Linked DNA regions of Homo sapiens: regions 2, 3 and 4 are each reported to be linked to region 1. The links are microRNA targets in miRTarBase. Many come from high-throughput screens and were not tested one by one. Region 1 holds a microRNA gene; each other region holds the end of a gene's coding sequence.

Region 1 (7,162 bases):
GTATGTTTTTGGAGATTTATCTTGTTACTGTTTGTTTTGTTTGTTTGTCTTATTGTTTGTTTGTTTTGTTCCTATTTCTTTCTTTTCCTTGATTTTCAGTATTGGTTTTTTTACATTAGGTAGAAACCTACTTCTTAGTAGACTGAGATTGCATAGAAGGTTTCTACCAGTCCGTTTGACTAGAGATTTTAAGGTGCCCCTCTTATTTCGGTGTTTGTTCAGACTGCTGTGCCTATACCAGAAGGTCTATGACATCTTATAGTACTAGAAGTCTTATCATGACATTTTTGTTAAAAACTTAGAAATTGATTTCTGAAAAGATTTTACAAATGTAGTGAGGTATTTTCTGTATTTTATCATACTAAATAATCTCCAAATAATCTGATAAATGAGCATAGTGTTCAGAAAAAACCTCTTTTAATGTGATGAATCTTTTATAGATTTAGGCATATTTATGGCAAACCGACTATGCTGTATCAGTCCCCCTTCACACCCCCGAGGCTCAACTGAGATTTACCATTGGAATTAATTGTGAATGGCTTTGTCTCAGGACTATAACATATTCCAAGCTAGAGGTTTCAGGAACAAAGCGTCTGCATCTGTCTTTGTCTTTAGCCCTCACGTGAGGAGCCCATTTATTAGCCTTCTTTATTAATTTTTTATATGGAGAAGTGACTCAACATGTACTAGACAGCCAAATAAATTACTGATCATCTCCTTCTATGCACAGTTTCATATTACCAAAAACTATACGCATATATGAGTTAAACAATTTGGTAATATGTTAACAACATAATATCTAGAAGTATCTCACCACTTAAAACATACGTGCACAAACACACATATTCAATCTTGTTGGCTTTTATTTGTTTCAATACTATAATTCTATTTTTGATATCCCTTCAATTATAATTTAGTTTCCATTGTTATGATATATAAATATATTTGTGCATAGACTATTTGGATATTTTATATTTGCATTAACTAAAAATTTTCACCGCATTTTTGCATGCATAATTTTGTTCTATTTCTTTCTCAATTTTGCTTTAAAAAGTATCTTCATTTTGCAGATGTGCAAGCTGAACAGAGGATTAGAACTTATTTTTTCTAAAAATCTAACAGTTAACTTCTAGCAGCATTGAGACCAGAATATAGATCTTCTGACTCCAGGCTCTTTGCGGTAAACATCAATCCCTCTGTGGCTAATGTCCAAACACAAGATGAAAGAAAACGTGGAGCAGAATACAAAAGGAATTATTTCATGCTGCATTCAGAGGTGTCATTCATACCCAGGAAGCACTTTTAATTACCAATCTGGTGTTAATTTTCTTATCTGTGTCTCATCTGTGACTAAACATTATCCAGCCCAGGCTGATAAATTCTGATATGAATCAGATATTATTTCAAATTTATGCTTTAGCCATACCCATGTAAGCAGTCTCCTACCCCATATATCTCATTTACAGAGACTGTTTATTTGTAGTTAACTTTTAAAAATTCAGATTCATAGAATTACAACTATAAATTGCCAAACATGTATAGAATTATTATTATACAGAAAATAATATCAGTGTCATTATATCCAATTAATCTTTCATTCAGAATCTTGTGCAGAACAGATTAAATTGAGAACTTAATTTTTTACACATTCACGATTTAACCAGAGAATGTGGCTCTATTTTATATTAACAAATAATTTCTTTGTTTATTCAATAAGCAGTATTCATTGTATTATTAAAAAATGGTCTACTCATAAGGTTTTAAAACAATTGAGTCTATTTATTTCTTTTCCCCTCATGTGTTAATATTTTTTTTGCCTAGTGCTTTAGAAAATATATGACCTAGAAAGCAGCCTAATTCTTGTCACAGCTGCAACCTTACTGATGCAGAAAATTTGGCATTTATATACAATGAAGCTGTCTCTAATGCTTTGTCCACCTTCTAGAATCCCCTTTGTTTAATTACTATGTTTGGAGCCTCAAAAAGGGCCTGCTTTCAGGAATAAGTGGATGGGAATGAGGGGATGCTGATGTGTGAATAAAACGGTGATATAAAAGAAAATGGCTAATTCCCCCCTCTGGCTGAAGTCTGTGGAGGTTGTTCTGCCTGTCACTGATAGCTGTGTGAGTCAGTCTCCAATTTGGGAATTACAATCCTGACCCACCCCCACACCAGGATTGCCCCTGCTACACGTTTCCATGGTGCCAAACTTCCCTGTCCTAGCACGTGATGGCAATTGCTTCTGCTTTCCCTGATAGATGTGCAGGGTTGGGGACAATGCTTGCCTTCCCAGAGTCACATCAATATCTCGCACAGAGCTGGCACATGGCGGGCCCTTCATAAATGCTTGTTCAATGAAAGAATAAAGACAGTTTAAAATTTGAGCTCATTTCTGCCTTTTTCTTTTTAATAGCTTTATCAAAGTATAAATTGATAGACAGAAAAACCCCACATGTATTTCATGTGTACAATTTGATGAGCTTGGGTATACATATACACCCATGATATCATCACAATCAAAATGATAAACATATCCATCGCCTCCAAAAGTTTCCTCTGCCCCCTGCTTTTTGTGGCAAGTGTACCACAGAAAACTTGAAGCCAAACTTGTGATCCTTCGTTGTTCCATTTCCAAAGCTATTAGGTTGGTGCAAAAGTAATCGCGGTTTTTGTCATTACTTTAATTACTTTACGTTTCATTAATGACAAAAACCGCAATTACTTTTGCACCAACCTAATACTTGCTATCATCACTTCTTGTCTATTTTCCATTCCTCTTATAAATGTTGTACAAACTAAATCACACTTAAATAAAATAAATGGGAAATAAAGAAAAAGGAAAAAAGGATGAATGCAGGGAAAAAACACTGCCTGGGTCTGTCTTCTGTCATTCCCCAAAATAACAAGCACAAGCCCTGATATTCATATTCCCAGCATTCACCAGTTGCCCTTTTTTTTTTTTGAGATGGAGTTTCACTCTTGTCGCCCAGGCTACAGTGCAATGGCGTGATCTTGGCTCACTGCAACCTCCACCTCCCAGGTTCAAGCGATTCTCCAGCCTCAGCCTCTCGAGTAGCTGGGACTACAGGTGTGCACCACCATGCCTGACTAATTTTTGTATTTTTAGTAGAGATGGGGTTTTGCCATGTTGGCCAGGCTGGTCTCAAACTCCTGACCTCAGGTGATCCGCCAGCCTTGGCCTCCCCAGATCCTGGGGTTATAGGCGTAAGCCACCCTGCCCGGCCCAGCTGACTTTTATCTTGAGTGACAGTTTTAGAGAAAGGAGGAGGAGGAAATTAGTATATATGGCAGTAGTATGACATTTCATGATCTTAAAAATAGATTTCACCAACTGTAGAAGGTGTTCCCTAAACTAACTGCCTGTGTAGTCTTAATCTTCTCAACGTAACAACAGGTAGTCCATATTGTGGCAGGGTTGGGAGGTGGTGATGGAAAGGGGAGGTGTGAATTCCACAAGGTCTGAGACTGGGACAGGAAGTCTCCATTTTGGCAGTGCTGGTGGGGTAAGAAAGGGCTAATTAGAAGAAAATGCAGAAGCTGAAGTTGAAAGATCAGGCAAAGGCAAAATACTGGTCTAGTAGGAAGTCCAGATCATGGTCAAGTTGGATGGCTTCAGAGGGAGCTATTCAGATGGGCTCCAAAAGTGTCAGCGATCTTCTCTGATAAGCTACCCAAGCTCAGGGCAGGGATACTGATGCTCATTTTATGGTAAGAGCCAGCAAATGAGATGCACTGATTCCACGTTTGTGGATTCTAAACAGCATTTTGCCTTCCTTCTCTATAGTCCTCTTTGCAGCACTCCACGTTACCACCACGGGCATCCCAGATGTTCCTCCTTCATAAACACCTCTAGTTGTTCGCTTTCCCAACTCATCCCTTTTCCCAGCCTCAAGGAAGATAAATCAGTTTTGGGCATTAACTTCCATCCAGTGCACTGGGCTGAGGAATCAGCATGGCTGATTCTGCTATCACTTTCACGAAGCCTGGGGGCAAATGAGGGGAGTAGGGAGGGGTTGGGACCAGGGCACACACATATTGTGAATCTAGGAAGAATCTTAGGATTAAAGCTGTTGCATTTTCCACTTGTATTGAAGCCTTGGGGGTAATGGCTATCCCTTTACCACACTCTCCACCTGACTAAGCTCTCTTCAGCAGAACAATCAACCCAGGCTATGGCTGACTTCATCCAGGGAGACCTAAATTTTTCCATTTACTAGGACTTCTTGGACTTTTTTTTTTCTTTTAATAACCATATAGTCAGCTTTACCCACAATGCATCACCTCTTGTCATCCTCAGACACAACGTGAGACATAAGTTGCACTGACCAACTGAATCCTTCTAGTCTCATCCTCTCCTCTGAGATCTTCCTACTGCTTCTTTTACTATTAAGTCCTCTAGAATCCCTATGCTATGAAAAACACAATCCATACAATTTCACCCTGAACATCTCCACTTGGACACAATAGACATCTCAAACTTAACATATCAAAAACAGAACTCCTTTTTTTTTTCTTCTTTTTTTTTGATACAGGGTCTTACTCTGTCATCTAGGCTGGAGTGCAGTGGCGCAATCTCGGGTCACTGCAGCGTCCACTTCCCGGGCTCACGCGATTCTCTTGCCTCAGCCACTTCAGCAGCTGGGATTACAGGTGTGCACCACCATGCCCGGCTAACTATTGTATTTTTAGTAGAGATGGAGTCTTGCCATGTTGAGCAGGCTAGTCTCGGACTCCTCAAGCCATCTGCCCTCCTCAATCTCCCAAAGTGCTGGGATTACAGGCATGAGCCATTGTGCTGCCCTAGAATTCTTTATTCTATTCCAATCCTTTCCCCAATCTATTTCTGCTTCACTTGGCTTCCTATTATTGAACAGTTACACCATTCTTCCAGCTGCTCAGGCCAAAAACTTTGGAGTCATCTGTGCTATCTTTCTTATTTTCTAACCCACATCTAAGTCCTCAGCAAGTCCTGTTGACATTTCCTTGAAAAATACAGCTCAAGTTGAACTGCTTCTCATCACCTCCACAGCTACCCAGAGGAAGCTGACGTATGTTCTCCTAACTCAGCCCCACTTTTTCTGTTTTTGTTCACCTATGCTCTATTCTGTTCCCAGCTACTGAAATGATCCTTTTTTTTTGAGACAGAGTCTCGCTCTGTCGCCCAGTCTGGAGTGCAGTGGTGCAATCTTGGCTCACTGCAAGCTCCACCTCCCAGGTTCACGCCATTCTCCTGCCTCAGCCTCACGAGTAGCTGGGACTACAGGCACCTGCCACCATGCCAGGCTAATTTTTTGTATTTTTAGTAGAGACGGGGTTTCACTGTGTTAGCCAGGATGGTCTCGATCTCCTGACCTCGTGATCAGCCCACCTCAGCCTCCCAAAGTGCTGGGATTACAGGCGTGAGCCACTGCACCAGGCCGAAACAGAATTCAGAGCATCTTATTCTTCTGTTTTAAACCTCACAGCTTTCCATTTCACAATTAAAAATTTTTACACCCTTACTTTGATATATAAGGCCTGTCTAATCTGATTCCCAGCTATGTTTCTGACACATCTGTGTGATAATAAATGGGTAACACCTGGCTCCCCATATGCCATCCTGGCATGAATGTTGGTTGATATTTTCATACATGTTAACAAGTAAGACAAGAGTAAGAGAATAAAGGAGTGTGTTGGAATTTCCCCATGTGTCGACAACAAGAGGATGTTCTTTGCCAAACTGGATAACAGTTTTCAAATACTGGAAGAATATTTCCTCAATTTTTTGTGCTGTTCAAATGTAGCATGAAACTCTTCTACATTTAATCTGAATTATTAACATTTTCTCCACCTCTTCCTTAAGTCTAGGCAATCAACAAAAATTAAGGTATGCCTTGATTTGTACCATTTGTCCATTTCCATTGTGTAATTCTCCTACGGTGGCTGATTTCAAGCTAACAAGTCAACCACACTGAACTCGGAGCTGGGAAGAGATGCACAGGACTGAAGCATTATATAGTATTTCCACCTTACAGACACTCAGATATACATAACTTCAAGGGCATAGATAACAGTAAAAATGTAGCAAACTAATTAGGAAGTGGTGAGTTTTAGTTTTAATGTGATATGTTCAGTTATAAGTTTATATGATTTAATGTTTAAGAATGGCTGTGTTTAGCAACCGTCTGGCAAAATTCCTGAAAACTTAACAGTTGGCTCTGCAAACCAGTGTAGGCTGGCTCCTACATACCACTTACCACCGTTCACTGTGCCTCTGCTACCCTGTGCTCTTTGCTGTGCTTTGAACACACAGCACTTTCCCAACTCAGGGACTTTGCACTTTCTGTTCCCCATGCCTAGAATGCTCTACCTGCATGCCTTGCTCCTGTCTTCATACCTTTCATACCCTTCTCTGCTCAAGTATCACCTCCTCAGTAAGGTCATCTCCACCCATCCTGACTCCCCAACACCCGCCATCCCCTTCCCATGCTTCCACTGTTTCTCGTAGCACTGATTACTCCATGATGTTCTCTTATTTCCTTGTTTACATGTTTATTCCCTATCACACAAAAATAGAAGCCCCATAAGATTAGAGAGTTAGTTTTCACTGCAGCCCTAATGCCTAAAAGAGTTTCTGGCCTACCATAGAGATTCAACAGCTATCTGTCAAATGTTTTGGGACCAACTCAGTATTTTATTTATTTATTTATTTATTTTGAGGCAGAGTCTCATTCTGTCACCCAGGCTGGAGTGCAGTGGCATGATCTTGGCTCACTGCAACCTTCACCTCCCAGGTTTTAGCGATTCTTGTGCCTCAGCCTCCTGAGTAGCTGAGACCACAGGCGCCCACCACCATGCCCAGCTAATTTTTGTATTTTTAGTACAGACATGGTTTCATCATGTTGCCTAGGCTGGTCTTGAACTCCTGGCCTCAAGTGATCCACTCACCTTGGCCTCACAAAGTGCTGGGATTACAGGCATGAGCCACTGTGCCTGGCCAGGACTCAGTACTTCTTTCTCCTCCATGGCATAACTGAAATCTACCCTAGAGACCTTCACAGGTGGGATGCCATTCTTAGTCACAGAAGCCACTTGCACCAAAACCACTTACAGTGATAGAAATAAAACGGCTTCCAGGTTGGGAGATGGAGATAGTATTCTC
Region 2 (7,162 bases), not on the chromosome of region 1:
ACTGATGCACATCGGGTCACCTTTCCCACCCTGATCTCCTCACATGCACTATCCCCGGGCCCTCACAGTGCTGCACTGATGGTCATGAGAGCCCCAGCCTGGGCACACAGGCACACAGCCTGCTGCTCACACAGGCCCCCTCCCCCCTCGCTGCACCCCCCTCACCCCCAGCAGCTGCGGCCCGGCCTGGATGAGGGAGGCCCCAGGATTCGGATGGGTGACTCAGGCTGAATCATGGCCCAGCTGCTCCTTGGCAGCCCTCTCTCCCATTCTGCCCGAGAGCCTTTTTTTTTTTCCTTTTTCTTTTTTGAGACAGGGTCTTGCTTTGCCTAGGATGGAGTGCAGTGTCATGATCACAGCTCACTGCAGCCTCCAATACCTGAGCCCAAGCAATCCTCCCACCTCAGTTTCCCAAGTAGCTGGGACTACAGGTGTGAGCAACTGCACACAGCTAATTTTTAGTATTTTTTGTAGACAGGGTCTTGCTATGTTGCCCAGGCTGATTTTGAACTCCTGGGCTCAAGTTATCCCAGAGAGCCTATTTGGAAAGCAAAGTTGGATCTTAGGGCAGGGGACAATGAGTTGGTGGTAGACAATAAGGGATGGAGCACTTGAGAGGGAGAAATTGGGCACAAGAAGACCTCTGTGCCCTCCTCCACTCCCTGATATCCTGCAGGTGCACCCAGGCAGCCCCCACCCATGTCCCTCATTCTGCCAGGGAAAGGAGTCCTTCCGCCTGGACCCTGGCCAGGGGCTCCCTCTCTAATCTCAGGGCCAATTTTGGTTCCCCGCCCTACCTCTTGGTCCTAACAATGACAATAACAATAAACAATATTAACTATTCTAATTGATCACTCCCAATTTACAGCACCCTATAATTTACGAAGCACTTTCTCATCAGTATTGCATTAATTCTCCTACTAGTCCTATGGGGTGGAAATTAGCATCCTCATTTTGGGGCTCAGGAAACCAAGGCTCAGAGAGGTTATGTGAACTTCCACTGCCACAGTTGGTGGGGTGACAGAGTCAGGAAGCAAGCCTGGTCCAATCTGTGGAGTAAGCACTAGGGCCAGAAGTCAAGTTGCAGTTGGGTGTGGTGGGCACACAGTAGGAGGTAGGTGGGGGTACTGCAGGGGCATGGTAGGGTGCATGGCAGAGGGCATGGCAGATGCATGGCCAGTGGCTTGCTGTGTGGCAGGTTTGTTGTAAACTTTTTCTCTCTATCCTTCTGTAAGTAAAGAATTACAGAATGATTTATGCTTTCAAGCTTTCTTTTCAGTGTGTCAGGCTGATATCCCAAGGCTCTCAACCCCACAGCATGGAGCTTCCACTGGGCTGCAAGACTTTTGCTTCTTGAAACCTCTATTTCCTCATCTGAAAAAATGGGTCCAAGTTTCGGGCAGGTAGGCTATTGAGAGGTGCAAGTGAAATCATGGTGCCCTTGAGGAGCCAGGAAGGACTTCCCAAAGGCCGCTGCTTGTCACATTTTGTTTTCTCTTTTTAAAAAACACGATGGGTGCTGGGCAGAGGGAGGGGTGGGCTTCTAGGAGCCTGGGGGTGGTACTAAGAGGGGAGTGGGTGACAGCTCTTCCTTCCCCTGCCTGGGCTCGGCCTGGCCTTCCCCCACCCTCAGCCCAGAGCCTGTTTCCAGGCAACAGGATGGATGCAGGGATGGTTTGAAGGGGAGAGAGCTATAAATAGGGAAGGGAGAAAACAAAAATAAAGTTCCAGAGAAAGCTGTGGAGCTGCATTGCTGGGGGTGGGGGTAGGGAGACCGACGAACAGCGGGGACGGGGGACAGTCCCCAGCCCTCCATCAGTGGGAGAGGGCAGTTTTCAGGTTAGCCACCCAGCAATGGTCCTCAGGGTGCTGACATGGGTGGGAAGGCAGTCTCTGTGTGCACAGCAAAGCAGGATGGGGGTGAGGAGGAGAAATCACTTCCAGTCAGAGGACTAACAAAAGCTCAGAAGAGGGAGGGTTGCGGCAGGCAGAGGTGACGGCCGCTGTCTGGATGGAGGAGGAGGCAGGCAGACAAAGGGAAATCATGGGCCAGGTAAGGTGGGGTTGGATCCACGGATCTCAGGAGGCCTGGCTGGGCTCAGCCTGATGGCCACACTGCTGGGGACACACAGACACAGCGAGGTGGGCTTTTCCTCCATCTGCGACACTTGCCACCCCCCAGGTCTTCCCATACCACCCTCTCCTCCATCAGGTTTCAGCTCCAACCTCCCCTCCTCAGACAACTCAGACAACTGACCTGACAGCCTTCTTTTCTTTCTTTCTTCTTCTTTTTTTTTTTTAGACGGAGTCTCGCTCTGTCACCCAGGCTGGAGTGCAGTGGCTCCATCTCCGCTCACTGCAAACTCCGCCTCCCGAGTTCACGCCATTCTCCTGCCTCAGCCTCCCGAGTAGCTGGGACTACAGGCACCTGCCACCATGCCCGGCTAATTTTTTGTATTTTTAGTAGAGACGTTAGCCAGGATGGTCTCGATCTCCTGACCTCATGATCCGCCTGCCTGGGCCTCCCAAAGTGCTGGGATTACAGGCTTGAGCCACCGTGTCCGGCCCCTGGCCGCCTTATTTTAAGGTTGCTCACCACCTCCTCTTCGTCGCATTCTATCACACCGCCCTGCTTTGTTCTTCGTAAAACTCAAGATTATCTTGTTCCATGTATTTGTTGGCCATTTTGTGATCACTAGGTGAGCTCTAGTCGGAGCAGTGACCTGAGGGCTGTTCCCTGCAGCCCCTCCTCCATCTAAGGACAGAGCATCTGTGCCACGCACACTGTCGGACTAAACGAACCCGCAACATGGGTACATGCGTGAACACTGATACAGACACAGCACACTTCATGCCCATACCACCTTTGTAAGTGTGCACACATAGCTCAAACCCACCCACATACACAACCTCGCTACCTGGCTCCATGAAATTGCACAAGTGTCCGTAATCTCCACGCTGCTACCTCCACATTTTCCTGTGTCTTTTGTTTATCTCCCCTCAGAGGCAAAGCAGGCCCCTTTTGGAAATTCCAAAGGAGGTGGGCTTTGGAGACAGGCTTGGGGCCAAATGTGGCCTTTGCCACTTCCTAGCAATGGCGACAGTGGGCAGGTAACTGCCTCTCCAGCCTTCATTCCTTCATCCATAAATTGGGGGTAAAAAACAAGAAAGACTTGATGGCAGTTTCCAGTGAAATTACTGGAGATAAGCGTTTCATGGATATACTGGGCACTTGGGAAATGGCTTGGTCCCTGTCACCAGAGAGAGCCCATGAGATGTGTGGGCTCTCACATGCACACGGTCAAGGCTTCTGACACGAGGCTGGTATCTTGGCTGACACTTCTAGGCCTGTGCCTGGAATGCATTGACCCTGGCAGATGAGAACACTGGTCTCTGAGCAGAACCATTCTCAGTGGGACCAGGTGTGAGGGTTGGCACCCAGGAAGCAGGAATGAATCTCCCCACAAGCCAGATGGCAAACCTGGTTTTGGCGTTTAAAAATGGGGATCAGGTGCTGGTAGCTGGATTGGAGGCGGCAAACTCAGTCTTTAGGGGCCACGCAGTGCATGAAAATGAGTGAAGTGGATGGGTGTGATACAAAAGGAGGGGAAGGGACTGCGACCAACTGGAAGTGTGTCCAGCCTAAAGGCATTCAAATTTTACAATTTTAAAACCTTGTGCTCGCAAATCAAACATATCTACAGGCCAAATTCAGCCTGAGGGCCACGAGTTTGCAATCTCCACGGATTGTGGGTTGTGAGTAGCATCTTAATTCAACCAAAAGGGATCTGGAGCTCCTGGCATCCTCACGTAAGTGACTCAGAGAATCCAAGCCCACCGGTTTGTTCCCCCCCGCCACCCCACCCGCCTCACGTCTGCCAGCTGCCTCCTACTTCCGGAAATAAAGGTCCCTACCCTGCGGGCCAAGGTGACCTGAGCAGAACGGTCTCCCGCAGCGTTCAAGGCCTTCTTCCCGGCTTGGCACCACTTCTTGCCCCCAACAACTCAGGGAAAGAGGAGGCGCTAACACTCGGGGGCTAACTGAATAGAGCAACCTTCTTCCAGCTAGAGGCTGGAGGGCGAGGCAGGCTTGCGGCACGAATTGAGGTCGCACTGAGGTTTAGAATAGGGCAGGGTCTTGCGCAGGCGAGTTTGGGGGCCTCTGCGGCATAGCCACGCCAAGAGCCAGTCCGGGTGGGGGCGGGGCCTCTGCGGGACGGGGCGGGGCCTCGGTGCAAGCGCGGAGAGAGGGCCTCTGCGGCAAGAGGGCAGGGGCGGGGCCTCGCGCAGGGACTGCCTATGCCAATAAAGGCAGCGCATGGGGGGCGGTGCCTCTGCGCGGAGCCAGCAGTATCTCCGCCCCCATCTTTCTCACTCTGAGGCGGTGTTGGGGGCCCCCTAGTGCTGATCCTGATCCGCTCAAGGCTCCCGGGCGGCATCCCAGACCTCTGCGGGCCCTCGCCCACCTCAAACTTTCGGCCTCAAACATTCCGGCGCCTTCGTGGGGGTGGGAGGGTGGAGCACCGGAGGCCAGGGCTCTGCTGGCTGCAGGGGCAGTTGCCCATTTCCCTTCCCCTTAGACAAGTTTTTCTGCTTTGGGCAGGTGCGCGCGGGGCTTTGTGCGTGTCCACGTTCTGGAGTGGGAGAGGTCTTTCAGCGCTCGAATGGGATGCACGTGTTGGCCAGCGTGCATGCACGCTCGCGCGGCCAGAGTGCGCACACTCGGGTTCGCGCATATGGACCCACGGACAGGCACGCGGGTCCGCACGTGAGTGGGCATCGGCGCGCCTGCGCTACCTGTGCGGCCAGTTGTGAGCCCTTCCGCCCCAACGCTGCGGCGGCATGGGGCTTCCCTAGATCCTGCACTCCCAGCTGGCACTTTAGGGACTAGCAGGAGGCGCCCGAGGCCACCTTCCCGCCTCCCAGCCAACTGCGTGTCCCAGCCCCGGGGGCACCCTCCCCGACCTGCCTTCCGGGGGACAGAGTGGGAGATGGAGACGCGAAGCCAGAGGTGGCCAGTCTTGTACCTGGGCTGTGTGTGCCAGACCCCAAAGAGCACAGAGGGGTAGGCTGGGACCTGGAAGACTCGCCGCCACGTGTCGCCCCCACCCGGCGCCCAGCCCAGCCCTGCCGGTGCGGCTCTGGCTACAGACAGATTAGCTTTATTCATGGACTCTCGGGGGCGGCCGGGCCCACCCGCCCGGGACACGCTCACATGGGGGGGATGGGGACTCTCCATGCCACAATCACAACACACGACGCCCGCGTTCGGACCGGGCCGGCTGGGATGGGGGGCGGGGGACATGGCACAGCCTGGCTCCTGGTTTTGGTTAAAAAAAAAAAGGTTCTCGAGGTTAATGGGAGTCGGGCGGGGTGCTCTGGGGCTGCCCGGGGGCCGCTTGGAGAGCCACTGTCGGGGATCGGGGAGGAGCCGTCGCTCGGATCTTCGTTTAAAAACACATAGAACATGCTACATCCGCGCAGACGCTGGATGGGAGGAGGCAACACTGGAGGGGCGAGGCTCCCAGCCGCGACCGCAACCCTGGCCCTGTCCATGCCCCGGGGTTGGACGCGGGCGGGTAGGACAGACAGATGGACAGACACTAACACAGGCTCCGAGGGGGTTGCCTCAGAGCGGAAGGAAGATCTCGTGATTGGGGAGAAGGAGTCTAAGGACAGCCCTGGCTCTGGGGGGCGGGGCAGGGACAGGGACAGAATTGTGCTGCTGGTGGGGGCTCTCCTGGGCCCCTACGCCTCTGGCTCATACTCCTGATATTCCTCCTGCATCACCGGGATGGGGGTGGAGTAGAGAAGAGCAAAAAGGAGGAGGAGTTTGAGACCAAGTGGCCAAGCCCCGGCCCAAGAACCCTCTCCCTGAAGGAGGAATAGCACATTCCCCTTTTCCTGGGCAGGGGAGGAGCCTGGAAGTTGGGGACAACAGAGAATTCTTGGGCAGGTGTGCCTGGGGCCCAGCGCTAGACCCTATCTGCCCTCTCCTCCCTGCTCCCACCTCCTGGGGCCTGGGTTCTAGAAGAGGGATGTCAAGCTCCCTGGCCCAACCATCTCATGCCAGGGATGTCCCACCCCAGCTAGGGACGGCAGCAATCATCCTGGATTCCCAAAGTCCCGCCCAGCCCTGCTGCCCCCTCACCTGGGGTGGGTCCTCATAACTCTCCCCTTCTGGCTCCATCAGGGGCTCAATCAGTGGTTCTTCAGCAGCTTCCTGGGCCACTTCCTCTGGCTGTGGGCAGAAAAGGTCAGGACTCGTGAGGACAGCCAGGATGCCCCCCAAATTCCCACAGTGGTAAGCTTTGGGTGGGTTGGAGTGGGGAAGGCTAGGGTGGGTTGGCAGAGCAAGGATAATTTCTAATTCAGTTATTTATTTGGAGTGCCTTGGAAGTGGGATGGAGGTGAAGGGGGAAATTCCCCCGAATCACAGTTGAAGTGGCAGCATGGAGTGGGAGCTGGCTCTCCACGCCGCTCCCCCAATGCCTGGCAGCCTCCACACTTCCACCATTTGGATACTCAGTCACCAGCTTATGCCTCATCCTTTGTGTCAGGCTCTGTGCTGGGCATCGGGACCCCAGAGATAACCCTCAGGCTCCCCTGGGCTGAAGGGAGCTGGAGGCTCAGGGACAGGGCTGGGCAGGGGCTCTGAGCCATTCCCCCGCCACCTTCCACTCATCCCTCCCCCGGGCCCTGTGTGGCCTCGTTTCTTCAGCTGTTGCTATTTTAAGATAAGCTGGAAGCCACAGCTCGTGGTGTTGCTTGGATGTGTGAGCTAAGACTCTCCCCCCCACCCGCTGCGTCTGCTGCCCAGACAGGCGCAGACCAGCGGGCATGCATGTGGGCGGGCTGCCAGACACATGGCCAGCCACCTGCAGGTGACCACATGTATGTGAACAAACATGGGACTGAGCTGGCTGCACACACAAGCACACGCGATAGCTTAGGATCCATGCACAGCCTGTGCAGTGCCTCATGTGGGGCTGGCACACGCCTGGGATCCCGGAGCATTGGTGCTGGGGAAAGCCTGCCCTGACCACGTCTGCACCCTGGGTGTCCCAGCTCCATCCAGGCAGCGTCAGCTCCTTCACATTACCTGTCTAAGTGGGCCCTGTGGGCACATGAGTTTCCAGCTCCTGACCTGGCTCATTTCCCC
Region 3 (7,162 bases), not on the chromosome of region 1:
GATACTGGAACATTGGCGATCTTGAGCTTTGACCTGGATGTGCTGACAGGGTAAGATAAGTGTGGAGGAAGAGTGAAACAGGTATTTGGTAACAAGAAGAGCAGACCATGTTAGAGACTGGTGGAGTTGATCAAAGTCTGTTTCCTTTGCCTTCTATGTGCACAGCTAGTCTACTTCCCTGATGTTAAATGAAATCATGGGACTCAGTTCTGGCCAATGGAATATGCGGGAATTAAAGTACAATGCTTCTATTTTTGACTCCTGCAAATGTCCTTGAGATCCTCCATGCTGTAGAGAATTCCCATGGCCTCAGAGATGGCAGAGCCACTAGATGGAAGAATCCTGGGTCCCTGAATAACCATGTGAGGCAGAGCCTCTGACATGCTTTGGGACATGACATGAGCAGGAAATAAGAATTAATTGTGTCAAATAACCTAGCAAACACATCTCTACTTTGTTGAGATTTTGGAATCACCTATTATCACAATTAGTCTACCTTGTCCAATGCAACCATTAAAGCTACTTGCAATGAAACAGATAGGATACTTGTTGGTTTTACCTATTACTCTCCAATTTTTTTCACCAAATAATCACAGAAGACTGATATGGTTTGGCTGTGTCCTCACTCAAACCTCAACTTCAATTGTATCTCCTAGAATTCCCACGTGTTGTGGGATGGACCTAGGGGGAGGTAATTGAATCATGGGGGCTGGTCTTTCCCATGCAGTTCTCGTGATAGTGAATAACAAGATCTGATGGGTTTATCAGGGATTTTCCCTTTTGCTTCTTCCTTATTCTGTCTTGCTGCTGCCATGTAAGAAGTGTCTTTCACCCTCCGCCATGATTATGAGACCTCCCCAGCCATGTGGAACTGTAAGTCAAATTAAACCTCCTTTTCTTCCCAGTCTCAGGTATGTCTTTATCAGCAGTGTGAAAATAAACTGATATAAAGACCTCTGTGGCTAAAACCCTACTTTTGACTGAGACTGAATTTTCTCTTATGGCCCACATTGTTCTTGTCTTCTGAAGTTAGTCAGTCACCAAGTATTACTGAGTGTCTAAACTCAGATCAACTACTTACTAGCTATGTGACCTTAAGCACGTTAGCTTGTTTGTGCCTCAGTTGCCTCATCTGTAAAATAGAAATAATAATAGTACTTACCTTGGGTTTTTGTGAAAATTAAGTAAATTAATCCATATATAGTGCTTAGCAGAGCAGCTGGCACACAGTAAGTGATGAGTAAATATATCATCATCATCAACATCATCATCATCACCATCATCAGTCCTTGGCACTATGAACAGCATTGAATGGGATATGCAAGATCTGGTCTTTCATGAGATGTCTGCTTATTTCAGGAGCCTTATTTTTGATCTTGCACTTGTTCAGCATAGTCTCTATTAAATACTTAATTTGAAGAGAAGGGTTTTGCCTCCCTCTAATCTACTCTAGAAAACACTGATTACAGTTGAAGATGTTCTCTGTTTAGCTAAGTGTTCTGAGTCAGTATCTGTGTTCCATTTAGAGGCTATGAGTGCGGTATTTGTTTGTACCCTGTGGCAATTGGAGTGGGAGGAATAGAGGGAGGTTAACATCCCTATTGGTGGAAGGAACTACTTTCTGCTCAGAGCCACTTCCTGCTTGGATTGACTTCCTTACAGCCACTTCCTACTTAGAATACTAAGATAAAAACAGCTGCCATTGTACCTACAGAAGTACACTTTCCTTCTTTTCCTGTCCCTATTCTCAAGGTACACTGCCTAGGCATCTCACTTCTGATGATGTACAGGCAACACTTGCAAAACCCAGGAGGTTTAGAATCCTTTCCCTTCTTTATTAACCTATGAGAACAGAGGCTGAACTTATACCAGCAATGGCCTCATCCAGCCCCAACACCATGCATTTAGATGCCTGATTTACCTGCATGCCTGAGTTAATGTCTTTCTGCCCATGCTGCTGGTGTGTGCTATCTCCTTATCACACACCCTTCAGTGATGCTAACTAGGCAGGCACACCCACTTGCCTTGGTATGTTTTATGGACGACCCAAGTTGCAAACATCAACATGTGTAAGACATATGCTCTCTTCTTTGTGTAATTTCAGGCACCAAAATATGCCTACACAGAGGGGTATGTGCATACAGACACACGCGTATTCTTTTTTTGCCTGGTAGAAATATACTTCTGTGATGTTCCTTCAACTCCCACACATGCCCCTCCATGGCTGGCACATCTCCTAATTATTTCCATCCACTCCCTCCCATAGACCTTTTGTGCGTATATTTTGGCACACATTCTCTTGGTTCCGCCTAGTTCCTTTCTCTCTTTCTTTCTCTACCTCCCTCCCTCTCCCTATCCCTCTTCACAGCTCTTAGGAAAATTTGTTAAACTATACACTCTTTATTATTAATGTACATTTATGAAAAATTCTGCACAGTTACAAAAGTGCATGGTTATAAAATCATCTCCATACAAAGGTTGGCATCTTCCCTCTAACCCCACCCCTCCCCAGCCCTCCCACCCCCAGACATTAGCACATTACAGGACAGTGCTTAGAAAAACTGAGAGCTCTGTGGATCCAGCTCTCCGCCCAGTGCTGTGACAAACACAATAGTGATTTACAAAAGACCTTGTGACGCCCTCACTTCCCTTTTGCCTCTTCCTGGGGTGGGGAAGCGCAGACAATTTTCTCTGGCTTTAGGAAGATGTCCTTTTGAGGAATGGGTTAAGATATATCTTTTTAGTCTTCTACTGCTGGAAAGGATGTCAGCACAGACACGTATAGGGGAAAATGGAAGCTGGAGGTCTTCCCCCATGGTTGAAGACAAACACCTGTCTTGATCTGTTCAAATTTCATACATGTCCCTCCTCGAAAGGAGCCATGAACCTCTGTAGCAACTCTGGAGACCTATTTCTGCAAAGTTCCCTGGGAATTCCTCTAGGAAGGGAGAAAAAGAGACGAGGGTTTGTCTGAGGGTGACCAGAGATAACTGGCCCAAAGTGATGTGATTCAGATATGAGGGCTCTTCTAAAAAGGAATTTTCTTGGCCCAAATCTTGACCAAACTAAACTTTGATATCCTCTGGCCTAGCATGGAGGAAGCTTCTGCAATGGGGACAAGTCTCTGAGGCGCAGGAGAGAGCAGAGGGAAGCAAGGAGAAGTCAGGTTCTCATTAGGATGCCTCTGCCACAGATTTTTCTCCTTCTTTATTTTTTGAGCATCCAGTCCTACCCTAAACCTGGTGGGATTCCATCTTAATCTATCAAGCAATGTAATATTAGATTGACGCAAAAGTAATTGGGATTTTTGCTATCATTTTTAATGGCAAAAACCGCAATTACTTTTGCACCAACCTATATATGCCTATTTAGGCATGCTTATTTATGCATATTTAGCCACTCAGCCTATGGCTGAGTGGACTATGTCAGAGAACTGAACCCAAGTTCTAGAGAGATCTGTCCCAAGTCAGCGGACAGCCAATATACAAGGAACCTCGCAGACAGACATACAGATGCAGAGATACCCCATCACATACATGTTAACCAGTTTGGACAATTTGAATGAAGCCTGTGGTCACCAGGGATATGGGAGCAATTCTAATCAGGATTGTTAGATTATCTCTAGAAGGTTGCTTCTGATAGCTTGGACAAGATGATGGCGGTGGGGGAGAAGCAGGGAATTCCTTGGCAGTAGGGAGGTTGAATACTTTCCTCATTGTGCTCTAGTAAACTGAGGAACTTCTAGCAGCAGGAGAAACATCTGTCCTTTAAAAGCCATGTATCCTGTTCAGAAAGGCTTGGCATTAATGGAGACCAAATTGTCCCACTAGAAAGGACATTGATGTCAAGGGGGCATTTGGTGTCTTTTCTGGTTCTAGTCCTATGCAAAAAAGCATATATCTTAAAATATATTAACTACATTTTGGCAAACAATAGTTCCTGGGAGGTTATTATAGTATTATGGTATGCCCCTATGGGAAACTTTTCTATTTTGTCAGGATTATAGTTTCTAAAAGTTCCTCTCCAAGTATTTAGGTTGCTGGCCTGGCTTGTAGAGAACAACTTGAGTTCACCATCCTTGGTCATCACAGAAGGAGAGAGCAGGGCACAGTTCTGCTTCGGATGTCACAGGGCCAGGGATTTGTCCCAGATGTTGTAAGAAAGATTCAGGGGACACAGGTTCAAGTACTTCAGGTCTAGCAAAGTTTCTGAAGACTCTTTTGGTTGACTAGCTCAGGGAAGCACGAGTGAGGGATGCCTTCCTGGAAGATGACTTATTAGCCTCCTTCATTCCTTTCAGGCTTTCCAGGAGGATGGGCTGATAGAATACCGCTGGAGCTTGGGGCAAGGGAGGTGTGGAAAGCCCCTGTTTTAATTCTCCTCCTGGCCAGACTTATCAGCATGTTGGACTGTGCCTTGATGTTCTTCTCCTAAACTGCAGAGGTTCTCACCTATAGCTTTCTTGCTCTCTTAGTATCTCTTGCAACACACGCAGCAGGGCTTGAGCAGGAGTGGTTAACACAGCTTCCTTTCTTGATTCCCAAAGATCTTACTTTTCACATGACTGCCACCATGGCCACCATTGCTGATGTTTTATCTACACATTGTAAAGCAGGAGTCTCCTATTCAGGTGTTACCTGTGTAGTCTCTGTTTCAGAGCCTGCAATTTGCCCTACCGTGAGCATAGTTCAATCTGTACAGCAGATGGGTTTGGCTGCCTTCTATTTAGCTTATCCACTAGCACATTCATGGATGCTGAATTCCAGGGCCCCACTACCCAGCCTTCTGAGGCATTCTCTTCCCCAAGCACTTGAGAAAGCACTGGAAAGAGAACTGTGTTAGGGTTGAGCCCCAACCTTGCCACATAGCAAGTCATATCCAACCTTGAGACTTTTTTCCCCATCTGTAAAACAGGATTACTGATGTTTGATTTACCTCCTGCACAGGGATGTGAAAAGTCAAGGAGAATGATGCAAAAATACTCATGAACTATCCGGTGCTGAACAAATAGAGGGAAGATAATGATGCTGCTGACGAAACTGATGAAGAAGACCACGATGATGATAATTGTGCTTTGCTCGTAAAGTTACTTGATTTTTGACTGACTGATTAGATGCAGTTTCCCTGAATGGAGCTGCCTACCGCCTTCCTTCTAGGGCTTATCCAGACAACCTTGGGTAAGTCACTCAACTCTCTACGATTAATTCATCTGTCAAATGGGGATAATAAAAACCACCAGGCAGTGTTGCTGTGAGAATTGAAAGAAGTGAGTCAATAGATATAAAAGTGCCCAGAGGAGTGCCTGGACCTTATGAGGAACTTTGTCAGCTCTAGTTGAATTTGAATTTATATAACTCTAGAGGGAATGGTGATGTTCCCCAACTTGGATGGGGCAGTAGAAAGAGCACAGACTTTATCTTGCTCATAGTGGCATGTGACTTTAACCTCTCTGAGCCTTAGTTGCCTCATCCGTAAAATGGGAACAACAGCGTTCACCTCAAAAGATTTGTGTGTGTGTGTGTCAAAGGGAATGGTTTGTGCAGAGAGCTTTTCAAAGTACCTGACACTGGCAAGGGCTTAGTATTTAATAGCTCTCTCACCCTCATGCTTAACGTGGGTAAGTTGCTTAGAAGAAAATGCAAAGCCTCATATGGTCATAACTGTGCTGCCTTTGTCCCCTTTTAGCTCTGGGTGCTGCCAGGCTGTGGGTCTGTGGCCCACAGTGCACTTTCCTGGTGAGACCCTGTGGCATGAGCACTGTGGCAAGAACAGTCACATGATTAGGATCCCAAGGTGCCAGGACTCTTGCTGCCCCAGTTGCTGGGCCTCCTGCCTCTCTCTTCTGAAGCAAAACTTGAGTGAGAGGCAGGAGCAAGGGCATTGAAAGTGTCCATCCTCAGCCTGCTGCCTGGGACCTCACCAACTGGTGACATTTGGTCATATGGGGGCAGTCACTGGGAGGTGGTCTCACCTGGTAGCTGCTGGTGGAAGGAGGCCAGGGGCTGTCATAGAGGTGTTCTTACTCCCTGTAGGCAGTGGCTGGCATTGCTGAGAGCTGACAGTTTTGGTGTCAGGAGGTGAGGGGTAGGTTTGAGTTCTGTGCCACACCCCCTCTATACAAGTAAGTGACCAGGAACTGTTCACTCTTCTCAACACAGCACACTATGCATATTCTGGCCTCTGCCATGTGCAGACACCCTTCTTTGCCTACCTGACAAAGTAGATATTTCCTGATGACCCAGTTCACAAATCACTCTAATCTTATAATTCTCATGGACATTGCTAGATACAGATGATGGCTCCTCCTCTGGGCCTCCATAATGACGTGCTCAGAGTCCTGACATATAGTCTTAAAGGGAATAGTTTTTGGATCTCTCTCCTTGACCAGAGGGAAGTGCCTTGAGGGCAGGGACTGAGTCAGTTCATCTGATGTTCCCAATTCCTAGCGTGCCGCCTGGCCCAAAGCAGATGCTCATACAAAATGAGTGTCCCCACCTTGCTTGAACCATGACTGAGGCAGCCAGGTCACCATGGAACCAGAGTGAGCAGTCAGGGAGGGCGTCTGGTGGCCAGCAGCTGTGGCGGTCAGCAGCATGGAGGGATGAGAGGCAGGCATGTCAGATCTCTTCCTCTTCACTGGCCTTGCTCCAGCGGTGGCAGCAGTTGGCAGTGATGCCCAGGAGGAAGTTGGTGGCCACAGAAGCAATGGAGACCACGAAGCCCACGAACGCAATGAATAGGTAATCATCCAGGGTCAGGGTCAGGTGGCAGGCCTTGAAGCTCTCCTCAGTGAGTGAGAAGAGCGGGGCGCCCTCGACTTCAGGAGGGCCCCGGCACTCAGCCAGCTGAGAATCTGTAACACAGAAGCCAGGGAGGGTGAGGTACCCAGGGAAGGAGAGGGGATTGGAAAGTCCACCCACAACCGCTTGCTGGAAAAAGTAAGAAAGACATTCATTGAAGTTCTTCCATGTGCCAAGAATTCTACTTAACTCCTTTAGTTCCCTCAACAACTCTCAAGACAAGGATTTTTATGCCTATTTCTATAGATGTGGAAAGTACTGTTTAAAGAGTTTAGCAATTTGCTGAAAGTCATCTGGCTGTGACCAGTGGTAGATCTGGGGACACCATCATCTCTTACAATAACCTCCCAACTGGTTTCTGG
Region 4 (7,000 bases), not on the chromosome of region 1:
GAAGGAGAGTTCACCCCTAGTTTTACTGCGTGATATTTCTAATTGTTTCTTATCTTTTGCATGAATAGGAGAATTCTTTCTAAAAACTTAATGGGGTATGGTTTATGGCATGCTTTTTGTTTAATACACTATAAATTACTGTCATTTAATTACAGTGAAGTATTTTTGACATTTTATAATAAATGTTTTGATTTATCCTTTGATTTTCTATAATCTGTTGCTTTATAAATTATGCTAAAGCTTAATTTATGTAAAGCATAACTGATTTGGTGTTAATCATTTAAAAAGATTGCTTAAAATACTTAATGTTAATTAATCTTTGTCATTTCTTTGTTTAGGAAATACAGAATTAACAGGTCAAGAAGAACTGATGGAGATATCTGAAGTTGACGAGGGATTTTATTCCAGGGCTGCGTCTAGTACCAGCCAGTCGGGTTTATCAAACAGTAGTCACAATTGTAGTAACAAGCCAAGTATAGGAAAGAACCACAGACGGTCAGGAGGAAGCAAAACTGGAGGAAAAGAAAAAGAAACTACAGGGGAATCTTGCAAAGATCACTTTGCTCGAAAACAAACTCAGAGAGCCCAAAGTGAGAATCTTGAGCTTCTCTCTTTGAAGAGACTTACTTTAACAACCAGCCAATCCCTACCTAAGCCTAGTAGCCATGGTTTGGCTAAGACCGCAGCGACTGTATTTAGTAAATCCTTTGAACAAGTCAGTGGTGTCACAGTCCCACATAACCCGTCATCTGCTGTTGGTTGTGGGGCTGGGACAGATGCCAATAGGTTTTCCGCTTGTAGTCTCCAAGAAGAAAAGCTTATTTACGTTTCAGAAAGAACTGAACTTCCAATGAAGCATCAATCAGGTCAGCAGAGACCTCCTAGTATTAGCATTACTCTGTCCACAGATTAATTAGTAACATATTTTTCTCCCATAACCTAGTGAACCTGGAAATACAACTTTGCTTCTTTATGAAAGTACCCTGGGTCTTTCATCCGTATTCCTGACAGGAGCCCTGATGTCTTAAATTCTGAAGGCTCCCCTGACTTTATGAAGGGAAGATTGTCTAGGTTGCAGTAAGTTGAAATATGGTTTTGTTATTTCTTGATTAAGATTTTTTCCCCTTGGTTTGAGTCTTTTTTTTCCCTCCTCTTATTTGTTATTGTTGCCCTAAGATTGTCAGTGACAATAAATTTTGACAGGTTGTCTAATCAAGTTGGTTATGTCTCATGTGAGGTTGTAAGGTGGTTTTTCTTGTTTTGGTTTGGTTTGGTTTTTTAATAGCTCCTATTTTGATGGCTGTGTGTTTGGCCTTCAGAGTCAAAGGGAGTCTGCATGTATGGGAACTGTTTTATAGAGAATGGGGCAGAGGCACAACTCCAGGAATTCTCTAGCTCCTGGTCAGGAAGCCAATCTGAAAACAGGCATGTGGAAACACAAAAATGATGTGTATGAAAAGCACCTGATGAAAATATTTGTAAGCAGATCATCTTTATGATTAGAACAATTTGCTCAAAGCCCTGGAAAATGCCTGGTAACCCAGTGCCTAGAATATTATATGATTCCAGGGGATGGCTAGAGGCATTTCTGTTGTTATCTCTGAAACATTTTTATATCAAAAATCAGATTGCTGGTAGGTGTGTTGTTTTGAAGTGTTTTATCTGGATTTAGCATGTGAAGATCCCTTTCAATTATTAAGGTATAATAGGCTGTAAAGCTGATTTACCCTACTGCTGGACTTTGGAAATCCTAGTTAGTTTGGACTCCTATAATTCAGAGCATACGTCATTGGAAGACTTCCTGGAAATCAGTGTAAATCTTGCAACATAGCTCTCAAGATACCACTGTATAATATGTAATTGTTTGTCTGCAAATGCATTTTTCATCTATAAAATGTCATGAAAGAAAATAAAGGTAGTGAAATATGGACAAAGGACATTTATATATTAACTAAAGTTGTTTATGTTTGTGTTCTTAAATTTAAAACACGAAGAAAAAGAAATGTCTTTCTTGTTAGTGAACAGGCCTGTTTTAAATATCTTAGTATGATATCAAAAGAATAATCAATTTAGTTACCTCCCAACTAAAAAGTAAAAATGAAAAAGACGACATGGCAGAAGTTGAAACAAACTTGTATGTATCTGTATGTGACCTCTAGATGGAAATAAAAGTTTGATGTTTGCTAGCCGTGGTCCTTTTGGCTATGGTTGCGGTTCCCCTGTAAAGCAAATGTACTTAAGTCATCATTCAGAGTGAGAGAGAGAAAGCACGGCTGAGGCTGAGTCAGTTGACCGTTGAGGAAGACCTAAGGAGCTGTCCAGTTCTTGGCTCTTTTTCACTGTGACTGCACAGCGGTTTCCTTCTTCATAGTCCCTTGCTGTAGTCACCAAGAGAGCATGCTAGTGTTTTCCTCTTGTTCCTGCTTATGCAGAGCTCAGATATATGAAAAATTTGTATGCTTTGAAGGCTGCCAAAGCATTTATACTCTGGACATAGTTTTAACTGCAACTGCTTTGGCTACCAGTTTAAACCGAGTTCTTCAAAAAGCATGAACTCGTTTTCATTCATTAGCCCTGTTTACAATGTGGATTTTGACATAAATGAATTTGATTTTCTTTTAGCTCCAGTAACAGAATGGAATAAGATCTATTGCCATAAATTGTAGTTAAGAACTGTAAGGCAATCGGGCAGTGAAACTTGATATTGTATTAACTTAATAGGAACCCTGTGTACAATTTAAAATATTTGTAAAATATCACTGTGAATTTACAGATGTCTTTTTGTCATTCTTTAACAATGAATTTCCCCTGTGCATAGTTATTAATAGTATTGGTATTATTAAAAACTAATTTGGCATTTTAAGATTGGCATTTTAAGCAAGTTGAGGTGCTTAGGAAACATTGTAGAATAAGTTTGGGGAAATGTTAGCTGACAGAGCTGAGAGATCAGATTTTCATGTTCTATCACTGTAATGGAACCTCATTTAGACCTCTCTAGACCTTTGCTAGCTGTGTGGTCTGAGGACCAGTAAGTAGGATTGGCATTATCTGGTATCTTGTTAAAAATGCAGAATTTCATGCCACTCTAGGTCTACTAAATCAGAATTTGCATTCTTAACAAGGTTCCCAAGTGATTTTTATGAGAAGAAAGTATCAGAGTGCAAACAAATTACTCGTCTAATATGTAGAATTCCCAGTGGTCTCACAGCCCTAGATCAAATGTGTCAGACACTAGATCATTATAATCTTCATTGGTTTTGACAGCTAATTAATTAGTTTAATAATATTGACATATGGCTTCTTAAGTATTTGAATTCTAGATTGCTAATGATCCTTATTTTTGCAGTAAAAAAGTAACACTTTATATTTTTCTTGTTAACTATAAATGGAATCAGAGCTGTAAATGCCTGAAATTTTAAGTGTGAAAAGGGGTGCCACCCTTTTATATACTGCACAACAAATTTGCATTTGTATATTCTTTTTAAAAAATCTCTGAAGACTTGCTCAGTGAAATGGTTCTGATTTTTTGCTTCAAATGATTTGCACTAATTGATTTTCTGGAGAGCGGAGTTACGTTAACAACAAAATTCTTTTATAGTTCCTTTGATACTATTTCAAATAAGGATTACACATTGAAAGTTTTTATAGAAATTATGAAAATTGGATAATCTTAACTATGGTAACCATTACTATTATCCATACTACTTTCTCCCCACTGAACTTTCAAATTTGAAAATTGGGGTAGCTTTTGTAGGTCACTTTCTTATAAAGATGCTGATGGTCACAGATCTCCTAAGTATCCAGAATAATATTTTTATCATGAGAAGGATTCCACACAAAATTGGGGTCTTGCACCCCATATTTCAGAGGATCTGAACAGAAATTGTGGCTTCATTGCACATTTTAAATCTCTATAGATTCTTGAAATCACCCAACCTCTCACATTTGAAAACCCAACGGCCTGGAGTATTCTGGTGGCACTGGAGCCAGCACTAGCTTTTTGGAATCCAAGTGGGGAGAGAAACAAAAATAGACTTTTCAAGGGACTGTCCCAGACTACCCAGGGCAAATGTCTTCCCTTCCCTTCCTGAAGCCACAGGAAAGCACCCTGGAGTCCTTTGTATACCACTATGGAAATTTTTAAGGCAAGCTCTCAAGACTTGAAGAGTTGGAATTCTCGGCATTTAAATGATGCCTGAAGTTTGTTTTGAAAAAGCAATATTTCATTGCTCTTTTCAATTGTGAAGCAACTGCTCAGCAAATATTACTCATTTTTTTAAAAAGTTGAATTAAAGGGAAATATATTTTTAAAACCAAAATAGATCAAAATGATCCCAGTTTTAAGGGATTTTGCCTATTTTGGAAGAATAAAACTAAAATGTTAAAACTGTTGAATTACAGAGAACAGATGTACTCTGAGACATAATTTTAAACAAATATTTAAAATAAGGCAGGTTAACATTTGCGTTTAGGCACAATAAATCTGTATTAAAGGGAAGCACATCAAGGAAATATATACATGTTGAATAATGTAACTGAAAAATATTTTTTAAAAACCACTTAAAAAGAAAAATAATTTGATGGGTACTTTAAGCATTGTAGATAGAAATTAATGTATAATAGTGTCCTCCCAGTCTTTGTATGAAAAATTAAAACTCTCTAGTCCTTTAATGAGCATGAATTTATACTTCTACATTTGTTGCTTAGTAAAATTATACTCAGTACTTTGAGTTATTCAGATTTATGTTTAATATTGTTAAATTCTTCATCAGAGAGCATAAATATATTGTCTTCTATACTTTGTAACTTGTGCATATCTAAAGAAACTAACAACGAACATTTTGGGAGATGTTTTTGTGTTTTTTTATAGTAGAGTTTTAGAGTACATTTGTCTTAATAGGAAGTTTTTACCATAAACCCAAGATTTTATTTCACGTATTGTTGCTTTCTCTTATATGGAACTTATTGTGTACCTCTTACCTTTATTTCTAATCATTTAGTGATACTAATCTTTTCATAGTAAATATATTTGTTTCTAATTGTATTCCTAGAGTTTACATTCCTAAAGAATAAACGACGACTTTGGCTATTTTTGTGTGTTCCCTACCTTCTTAAGGCTATGGAAATAAACTGGAGTTTAGTTTTTTGAATTTTTGTATATTTGTGTAAATGTTCTCCATATGTAGTACTTTATACAACAAGTGTTGCCTCTTGTTTTATTGAAATAAAAACTGAAAAAAATATTTTTTCCAGATCAGTTTACTCATTTAAAAAATTATTATAAAAATTTGCAGAAGTTTTGATATGAAGGAAGAGAATAAAGGAGGAAGACTTAGGTAAGTTGAGCCATTGAGAGCTTTTGGGGGTAAGTGATAAGACAATGACCTCATTCCTGGCTTTGTGCTTTACATGTCATAGGGCTGAGGAGTATGACAGGTCCACTCGTATTCATCCAAAGATGAAGATGAGCTCTATGGGCCATGCACCAGTGGCGGATTATTTGTCATATCAGAAGCACAGGCAAATTTAGGTAACATCACTTTGTCCTTCTAACTTTAGAATCTTTATTGCCATGTGTGGTGAGTAGTAGTCCCAACTACTCAGGAGGTTCACTCGAGCCCAGGAATTTGAGACCAGCCTGGGCAATATAACGAGATCTTATCTCTTAAAAAAAAAAAAAAAGCAAAAGAAGAAGAAAGAGTCTATATCTCTTGAGTACAGAGATTATATGCCCCTAGTACCTAGATAGGACTTTGTGCGTGGTAGGTATCTAGACATTTATGAGACAATAAATGAGTTAGGTTGATGTTAGCTTTGGAAAAGAATCAAGGATAAGTCTTCAGTGTTTTCTTTAACAGTACAATTTTAGAATTTTGTTTGTTGGCTTTAGGAAATCTCAGTGGCATTACATGAATTGCATTATAGCATGTACTTAGAAAAAAGAACTTATGGCTGGGTGCGGTGGCTCACACCTGTAATCCCAGCCTTTTGGGAGGCCGAGGTGGGTGGATCACCTGAAGTCAGGAGTTCAAGACCAGCCTGACCAACATGGCGAAACCCCATCTCTACTAAAAATACAAAAATTAGCCAGGCATAGTGGCGGGCACCTGTAGTCCCAGCTACTCAGGAGGCTGAGGCAGGAGAATCACTTGAATCTGGGAGGCGGAGGCTGCAGTGAGCCGAGATCATGCCACTGTACTCCAGCCTGGGCAACAGAGTGAGACTCTATCTCAAAAAAAAAAAAAAAAAAAAAAAAAAAAAAAAACAGAACCTATTAACCTATTAGACACTTGAAAAAATTCCTGGCTTGTAGTTGATTATATGTTTGGTTAATTCCATTTCATCTAAGGAACTAAGTAATTTAGGAAATGTGTTCTTAACTACTCTTAGAAGGGTACTTGTAGAGAACCAGAGTGGTGATTTTGTAAGCAGTATTTTGTCCTATACAATATGCACTCTTCCAGTAACTCCAGTAGTCCACATAGCTGACTCACCTCCTACAACCCGACTTTGTTAATATCAAGATAACTGTTTTATAATTGTAGAGAAAGATTTTTTACAACCAGTTGTAGTTATTATTTTCTTTGCATTATGTTATTGTGATAGTAGTGGTAGCTAATATGTGTAATTAAAATGATCATCTTATCCTCAAAATCATCCTATAAAGTGCATAGAATCCCCATTTTACAGAAGAGGAAACTGAAGCTCTCAATAGGGTAGAGGACTTGGCTAAGGTCACCTAGCTGCTGAGTGGCAAAACTCAGCCTTGAACACAGGTCTTAGGACTCTCACTTTATATAGCTTGGTAAAAGAAGATACTAATTAAATCCTACCTAATAGAGATGTATTTAAAATTCACTCACCCCATCTGTCTTACAGGTAATAGTTTTAAGGTAAGATAAAATCAAAGTGTTCTAAAAGTAAATCATAATACATTTTACAGAATTAGAGATAATTGTGTTTTAGTGGTCAAACAATGCTCGTTATTCTGTTAGTAAAA

The links. The annotated mature microRNA hsa-miR-548h-3p reads CAAAAACCGCAAUUACUUUUGCA and lies in region 1 at 2,707-2,729, shown strand. An mRNA with a match to its seed (bases 2 to 7 or 8) in the 3' UTR can be bound and repressed. Matches are read on the target gene's strand: a 7mer-m8 pairs with bases 2 to 8, a 7mer-A1 pairs with bases 2 to 7 and ends in A, and an 8mer does both.
Region 2: miRTarBase lists SNCB as a target of hsa-miR-548h-3p. Seed matches in the 3' UTR shown: 7mer-A1 at 5,452-5,458.
Region 3: the mRNA of LRRC55 is a reported target of hsa-miR-548h-3p. Seed matches in the 3' UTR shown: 8mer at 5,227-5,234 and 7mer-m8 at 3,328-3,334.
Region 4: the mRNA of HYCC1 is a reported target of hsa-miR-548h-3p. Seed matches in the 3' UTR shown: 7mer-m8 at 1,248-1,254, 7mer-m8 at 1,273-1,279, 7mer-A1 at 3,639-3,645 and 7mer-A1 at 4,904-4,910.

Annotation. Positions count from the first base shown.
Region 1 is chr8:27,044,438-27,051,599 of GRCh38, reverse strand. MIR548H4 (microRNA 548h-4) reads left to right here and starts at 2,637; the gene lies at 2,637-2,747.
Region 2 is chr5:176,615,063-176,622,224 of GRCh38, forward strand. It overlaps SNCB (synuclein beta), which reads right to left. Exons shown (of 6, transcript NM_003085.5): 5 at 6,152-6,241; 6 at 5,020-5,781. The coding sequence ends at 5,749. Among named protein-coding and RNA genes, the nearest start is that of GPRIN1, 8.5 kb to the left of the region's middle. RefSeq lists a silencer at 4,130-4,399.
Region 3 is chr11:57,186,936-57,194,097 of GRCh38, reverse strand. LRRC55 (leucine rich repeat containing 55) reads right to left here. Exons shown (of 2, transcript NM_001005210.4): 2 at 2,381-6,853. The coding sequence ends at 6,618. It overlaps LOC105369309 (a long non-coding RNA gene), which reads left to right. Exons shown (of 7, transcript XR_007062670.1): 3 at 1-50; 4 at 4,947-5,177. Among named protein-coding and RNA genes, the nearest start is that of LRRC55, 8.6 kb to the right of the region's middle. RefSeq lists a silencer at 7,145-7,162.
Region 4 is chr7:22,939,502-22,946,501 of GRCh38, reverse strand. It overlaps HYCC1 (hyccin PI4KA lipid kinase complex subunit 1), which reads left to right. Exons shown (of 11, transcript NM_032581.4): 11 at 339-7,000. The coding sequence ends at 913. Among named protein-coding and RNA genes, the nearest start is that of HYCC1, 71 kb to the left of the region's middle.